2 linked regions of the Homo sapiens genome follow. The protein of the gene in region 2 binds, or shares a complex with, the protein of the main gene of each other region. Each region holds a gene or a part of one and is shown on either strand. Other genes may lie near its edges.

Region 1 (3,745 bases), on a different chromosome or scaffold from region 2:
GTGAAGAGAGCCCCGGACTGGATTCGCTCTTGCTGGTGTTTGGGAACTGACAGCTGTCCCTCCATCTTAGTTATGCTCAGTCTCTAGACCCTTAGGTGTCAGATAGAAAGCTGGACTAGAATATCCTCTCAAGCCATTCCTTCGTAGAAATCTGGTGTTTCACTATTAAAACTAAATGCATGCGATTCTGCCTCCACCTCAACTGCCACAACACTCAAGGAGAGACAAACGTTAGTAGATAAAATTTACTCAATTTAAAATGTCTGTTATGGGTTTTTTTCTTACATTGACAGCATCTGCTAACGTTTACCGCCTCTTAAGCGTTGGCAAATGATAAAACATCATTGTTGCTGATGTGTATTACCTCATTTAACCTTCACAAAAACCAGAAGATATAAATATCATTACTTCTGTATTACAGACTAAAGTTTAAGGAGATTTCATAACCTGGACAAGATCACCAAGTAAATGGTAGGGTCTGGCTTTGAACCTAAACCCTCTGGTTCCAAAGTCTCATCTCTTAACCACTACTATACACTCTCTTCAAAAAACAATACACTAAAATGTTAACAATAGAATTACTCTAAGTTTTACTTTTTTGGTGTGTGGATTTGTGTTTTTGACCGATTGTAAGGCTTATGTGTAATATAAGCATCTTTTTTTTGTTGTTGTTAAAACTAGAATTATTCCATCTTTATGAAGGCAACACTGATCTCCACGAGCACAATCATCCAAACGGAGATGGGAACCCCTGTTCTAACTCTCTCAGAGGCCTGAAGTTAGTTTTCTAGCACTCTCTCTCACACAAGGGAAATGCGCTTACGGCCAGTTCAAAATCTGCAGTAACCTGTGTCTGTTTATTAGGGACCTCTTGGGCGCAGGTAAGACAATATTCTTTCCCTGCAGCTTGAAAGAAGTGAAATCAACGGATAACCACTACCGGAACAGAGTTCAGACTGCAACTCATGAGATCTCTCAGTCCTTTCCTTCAGTGAATTCTTCCGAGCCCTTTTCAGGTGCAGCTTTGAAGGTTAAAACGAGACACTAGGACCAGTGGGTCCCTAAGAGGCGGCAGCACAGACACAGGTGTGCTTCCCTGCTCCGTGGTTTTACGGACGAAATTCTGAAGCATCCTTAGAGACCAAGGGTCTACCCATGGGGTTCACCAGGCCTTCTTTCCCGAGGATCGGCCCTTGACTCAAAGAACTGGGGCGGGGGAGAAGTCGCTTTCTAGAAGCCGCCCGACCACACCGCCACCATATTCTCCTCTTTCCCTCCGCGGCTCCCCGCACGTTCCCGGGGAGAAGAGCTTCCAGTCTCTTCCGTGGACACCCAAAGACGCCGAGCCTCGGCTCCCAACCGGGAGCGGCCTCCGTGGCCGGGCCGCAGGCACTCACCGTCGTTCTCGTCGCTGTGCCGCCGCCGCGACATGCTGCCCTCCGGTGCGCCGCGGAACCGAGAGGCCAGGCGGTAAGCGCTGCAGGAACTGTCTGGCCGCTGGCCGACGCAAGGACAGCTGCAAGGCGCGCGGATGGGCCGGCACGCAGGCGCACTAGCTCGCCACGGCCCCGGAAGCGCAGGAGAGGCCGCCGGGTGGGGCTAGGCGCTGCGACAGCCGGCGTGAGGAAGCTCAGTGGGCTACGAACGTCTGGCACACATGCAACCGCCCCCTCGGGCTGCCTCCGCCTGCCGGCTACTTCTTTCTCCCGCCTTCCGCTCTATGTCCTTCCGGGGCCACGCAGAAAGTGCCGCCGCTTTGGCCACTCAGAGCCCCCGGGCCGCGGTCGTCGTACGCCTGAAGGCGGGTCGTGCCGGCGGCCGCTCTAGTCTCCGCCTCCGCTCAGGCCGGTCCTCCGGGGCTTCTCAATGGTTTCCCGGTGGCCTCTCAATGGTTTTCCCGGCGGCCCTTGCGCCGACGCCAGGAGACTTCCGGAGCTTGGTGACGTCACGAGCGAGCTTTTCTACCCAAATACGCGGCGGGGGAATAGGCTCGAGGGCGGTGAGCAGTGACAATTGCTAGGCGGAGACAGTGCAGGGAAGAGAGACCTTAGAAAGGATCAGGACTGGCGGGTATGTGCTCATCTACTCCCACTTTCCGGCTTTTGCCGCCTTGGGAAAAGTGGGAGGAGAGGTTGGGCCAAGCTCGGCATGCGGGGTGGGGCCTGGGCGGGAGGCGGTGCCGCACGTGCCGCCCCTTGGTATGGAAAGGCCGGCCCTGACGCGAGCGTGCGGCTCCGGGCTTGCCGGCTGGCCGTCATTTTCCTTAAGTTGTTTGCTTAGGAAGGAACAAATGATTGTTTTAGTAATCTGTTTTCAAGGGTTATTGGGTACCTATATGCCTGTGTGTGAGCGTCCCCTCCCCTGATGTCTTTATGAGCACCATACTGGCTTATCTGCTTTGTCCATGGCCATCTGAAATTTCACTCTCCCGGCCTAATTCTCCTTCGGTCTTACCCATTTCAGTAAATGACGTCATCCGTCGGCCGCTTAATCCAAAAATTTAGAGTCTTTCTTAGCTCTTTTCCCTCTTTTTACATAACAATTATCTGTAAACCCTGCCTGCTCTGCTTTCAACACAAATCCAGAATCAGATCGTGTTACTGCTTTGTTTAAAAGTCTCCTATGACGGCCGGGCGGGGTAGCTAACGCTTGTAATCCTAACACTTATGGGAGGCCGACGCGGGCGGATCCGCTTGAGCCTAGGAGTTCAAGACCCACCTGGGCAACAAGGCGAACACCGTCTTTACAGGAAAAAAAAAAAAATTAGCTGAGCCTAGTGTTTGGCGCCTGTAGTCCCAGTTACTCGAGGGGAGGGTTGGGGGCCGAGGTGGGAGGATCCCTTGAGCCCAGGAGGTCGAGAATGCAGTGAGCGGTGATCGCACACTGCACTCCAGCCTGGGCAACAAAGTGAGACCGTGTCAAAAAAAAAAAGTCTCCTACGACTTTCCATTGCACACTCCATGCCATGGCCTGTGGGGTTCTACTTCTCCTCACTGTACTCCAACCACTCTTTCTGTTCTTACAATAAGTCAAGCTTGTTCTTATTTTAGGAACTTATACTATTTCCTTTACCTGAAGGTCTCTGGTTCTAAATCTGCGTGGCTGGCTCTTGGTCACTTAGGTCTCAGCTCAAATGTCAGGTCCTTAGTGAGGCCTTCTTTGGTTACCCAATCACTGTTTTATTTCATTCAACGAATATTATATTTATTAGCATTTAGCACCTCCTAGGTGCCAGGCAGAGTTCTGAATGCTGAGGATGTAGAGGTGAACAAAGGAAAACCCCTGCTCTCTTGGCGCTGATATATTCTAACGACCCATTCAGGAATACCCACAAATAGTGCCATCATAGGTAGTGAGCAACGGGAGAGTGGTAGATGAGATCAGAGAGGTAGGGGGAAGGTGCTCTGTGAGGACTTTGGACATTATCCAAGTGAATTGAGAAGTCATTGGAGTATGATTTTTTTTTTTTGAGACAGGGTCTCGCTCTGTTGCCCAGGCTGGAGTGCAGTGGCACGGTCTTGGCTCGTTGTAACCTCTGCCTTTTAGGTTCAGGCAATTCTTGTGCCTTAGCCACCCAAGTAGCGGCAATTACAGACATGCGCCACCACACCAGGCTAATTTGTATATTTTTAGTAGAGATGGGGTTTCGCCATGTTGGCCAGGCTGGTCTTGAACTCCTGGCCTCCCAAAGTGCTGAGATTACAGGCATGAGCCTCTGTGCAGGGCCAGTCTGACTTATTTTTTT
Region 2 (3,745 bases):
TACCAAGGCAGTCAAGACAAATTCCCGTTTAGAAAGCAGGGAAGCTGGGCCGGGCGCGGTGGCTCGCGCCTGTAGTCCCAGCACTTTGGGAGGCCGAGGCGGGTGGATCACTTGAGGTCGGAAGTTCAAGACCAGCCTGGCCAACATGGAGAACCCCCGTCTCTACTAAAAATACAAAAATTAGGCCGGGCGAGGTGGCTCACGCCTGTAATCCCAACACTTTGGGAGGCCGAGGCGGGCGGATCACCTGAGGTTGGGAGTTCGAGACCAGCCTGACCAACATGGAGAAATCTCGTCTCAACTAAAAATACAAAATTAGCTGGATGTGGCCGGGCGCCGTGGTTCACACCTGTAATCTCAGCACTTTTGGAGGCCGAGGCAGGCCGATCACTTGAGGTCAGGAGTTCGAGACCAGCCTGGGCAACATGGTGAAACCCCGCGTCTACCAAAAATACAAAAATTAACCGGGCGTGGCAGCGGGCGCATGTAATCCCAGCTACTCGGGAGGCTGAGGCAGGAGAATCGCTTGAACCCGGGAGGCGGAGGTTGCAGTGAGCCGAGATCGCGCCACTGCACTCCAGCCTGGGCAACAGCGTGAGACCACCTCAAAACAACAAACAAAATCAGAGAGGCTAATGCAAAAGCCTAGTGCCATGGTACCGCATGACAAAGCTAGGTTCGGTGGAAACATGGAAAACCAGATCTTTGAGTGAGCGATAAACTTCATTCCTGGGCCTCAGTCTCCCTTCGGCTCAGGGAGAAAATGAGCATCACAGGCTGTTTCAGGCTGATGTCCCTAGATGCTACATATTTGGCAAAATCTGCCCCTTTATGGTTACCTAGCGGCGATGGAGTGGGGAAGCCCCAAGTTTAGAAAAGAAAGAGCGGTAGGCGGAGGTGAGACGTCTAAGAGGCCGCCGCAAGCCGGCCTCCAGGAGGCGCCAGGGCTCGCGCGCCCCGCCTCGCAGGGAGCAGCCAGTTCGGGGTTCGCACGGCCAGCCGCTGCCGCTGCCGCCGTCGCCCCTCGCCCCTCGGCCCCCGCAGCCCGGGCTCCGTGAGCCCGCCTGGGGGACGTCTGCTCGCCCCTTCTGCGGCCACTGACCCGACAGCCTGGGCTCCTCGCTCTGGCCCGGGCTCCTAGCTCCCACCCCTCACCCTCACCGCTGCCTGCGCGCTCCCCGGGGCCCAGGCTCCGCGCGCCCAGCCACGATCACCCACCCTCCTTTCACACTCACTGGCAATTGCAGCGGCCTGTCGCTGGGTGCGACCGTCATGTCGGAATCCGAGTCGGAAAGCTGCCCATCTTCCATATCGCCGACCTCCAACGCCATCTTCCCGCGGTGCGCTGCGCTGCACAGCGGCGGGTCAGGAGAGCACTTCCGGCGGGGCAGCCGGAAGGCCCGGCGGCTCGGCTGCTCGGGCGCCCCCGCGCGGAGGCCAGCCTGTCCCAGCGGCCTGAGGCGTCCCATTGCATTCCAACTACCCCGGGAAAATGAATCCCTTGTTCCCCCAACACTTTTCTTCCAAACTTTATTTTCGTGCAAACATAAATATGTCACGTATCGCGGTCGTCTGGGATTCCTCCCTTGGCCGTACATCCTTCCCCTGTATGCTCTGGACAAGCCTCCCCGCTTCTGTTCTTGCTCCTCCACAATCCACTCTACATATTGCTTCCAGGGAAGCCTTTCAAGCTGTATAGTCCGCCCTCTGTATCCACTCCCCATCCACGGATGCCGAACCTGCGGATGGGAAGGACCCACCGTGCACCCCCACATAATGTAAGGGGCTTGAGCATGGCGGATGTTGGTATCTGTGGGGGTCCTGAAAACAATGACCCGCGGATACCTAGGGAGGATTGTACCTTAGCTCGAATCTTCCAAGTGCATCCCTCCCCAAAACAAGGACTGAGTTCTCAGCATGGTGTTTGAAATGTTTGTTTTCCGGTGTCGTAAAGAAATAGCAACATAAATTTAACTTACTGAATAAGGCCATTTTTACTTTCTGCAGAAAGGGTACACTCGCCAGCAGTTTTGCCAGGAGAGTACACTGAACAAAAGGAGACAGGGTCATTTATAACCTGACGTGTTTACCTTACTGCTGTGGCTGGTTTTTATTGGCTGGACCGGACCTCACATTTTGTATTTGTCCCGATTGGCTAGCAACTTAGAACTTTTTAAAAGAGGCAAAGGTAGAGGAGAACAAAGGAAGGAGGAAGTAACTTGTGGAATGCTGAGAAAGATGAAAACACTTTTAAATAAGGAAGAGGAACAGGCTATGACCTAATGCTTGCTTGGACTAGTAAAAGCATGCCAGGGCAAATATTTAGGCTAAATTGTGGGAGCTAAGAACATAAAGTACATTTTTTTTTATTATGGCTAGCAGATATTTAAGAATGTTAGCACAGATCTTTGAATAAATTTTGCTTTTAAGAGAAGTTACTATTTATTCCTAATTAGACGGGGAGGAAAGTTTTTGAAGAGGAACCTCTGTTTTACTTTGCCACATGGCAAACAAGGTCATGTGGACTGGGCATCTGGTCACTGGTCCTAGTGTGTCCCCCTGCCTAACCGCTGGCGCGCTGAACCTGTTGTTCCTCAGGCCAGGCCTCTGCATTTGCTGTTCACTCGGCCTGAGAGGCCCTTCCCTCAACCCACCCCATTCTTTAAGGGTTATCTTGGAACCCGCCTTTGCGAAAATTATAACAGTGAGAAAATTATGGCAGTGGGAGAGATCTGATCTAGCCAACCCCTATCTTGCTTTTAGCCTTCAAGCTGCCCTTAATTATTCCTGTGCTTGGGCCTGTCAATGTAACTTTGGGAGACATTTAGTTTATAGTTTAAATGATAATAACCCTTCCCCAAAAGCCAACCGCCTTTGTAAAGCTAGTAAGAGACCACCAGGGTAGACGGATAAAGGAGGCTGAATTCTGCTAAGGTGTAGACATAAACCGTTGCCAGTCATTATCCCAGAGGTCACAAGGTATGCAACTTTTCCATTACTCTTCCAGATAATATCACTATTGTAGACCCTAAGATTGGCGTTTTGAGATATCTTTTCAGATATTTTGCATGTCTGACTACCAATGGTTCCACCTGAACCTCTAACCGCTTCTGGGTTCCCACACAGAAGTTGTCGAGCTGCTTGAGGACAATTTCCCATACCCCTATGACTGCATCCCCAACCAATAAGCAGCAAGAACCCATTGCTTAGCCACTCCATCCCTTCCCCAAACTATCTTTGAAAAACACTAGTCCCTGAATTCTCCAAGAGATTGATTTGAGTAATAACTCTGTCTCCCACGTGGCATGGGTGGCCTCCTGTCTATTAAATTCTTTCTTCTTTTTGAGACAAGAGTTTTGCTCTGTCTCCTAGGCTACAGTGCAGTGGCAAAATCTCGGCTCACTGCAGCCTCTGCCTCCTGGGTTCAAGCGAGTCTCATCCCTCAGCCTCCCGAGTAGCTGGGATTACAGGCATGCACCACCAGGCTCGGCTAATTTTTGTATTTTTAGTAGAGACGGGGTTTGACCATGTTGGCCAGGCTGGTCTTGAACTCCTGACCACCCTGACTCCTGATCTACCCTCCTTGGCCTCCCAAAGTGCTGGAACTACAGGCGTGAGCCACAGCACCTGGCTCCTCTGCCACTTTTAATACAGAACTGTTTTAAGGTGTCCTGAGTTTAGCCACTGCATTTTCATTTCTACAGGGCTTTGCAGTTTTCAAAGTGCTTTCATATATGATTCATTT

The links.
Region 1: the proteins of PHAX (region 2) and NCBP1 are in contact, whole or in part, in a cryo-EM structure (PDB 8PNT), measured with the Homo sapiens proteins. Residues at the interface, in NP_115553.2 of Homo sapiens: Ile114, Asn115, Asn116, Ile117, Trp118, Gly119, Val121, Leu122, Glu124, Gln125; in NP_002477.1 of Homo sapiens: Cys380, Lys381, Pro384, Pro388, Gln389, Leu391, Ala392, Thr395, Phe417, His420, Leu421, Asn423, Phe424, Gln425, Arg427, Trp428, Ser429, Asp432.

The regions. Positions count from the first base shown.
Region 1 is NC_000009.12:97,631,568-97,635,312, reverse strand, and holds the start of NCBP1 (nuclear cap-binding protein subunit 1), read right to left. Parts: upstream 1,493-3,745; 5' UTR 1,432-1,492; coding exon 1,398-1,431; intron 1-1,397. UniProt on the Homo sapiens protein: Component of the cap-binding complex (CBC), which binds cotranscriptionally to the 5'-cap of pre-mRNAs and is involved in various processes such as pre-mRNA splicing, translation regulation, nonsense-mediated mRNA decay, RNA-mediated gene silencing (RNAi) by microRNAs (miRNAs) and mRNA export.
Region 2 is NC_000005.10:126,598,549-126,602,293, reverse strand, and holds the start of PHAX (phosphorylated adapter RNA export protein), read right to left. Parts: upstream 1,348-3,745; 5' UTR 1,332-1,347; coding exon 1,236-1,331; intron 1-1,235. UniProt on the Homo sapiens protein: A phosphoprotein adapter involved in the XPO1-mediated U snRNA export from the nucleus.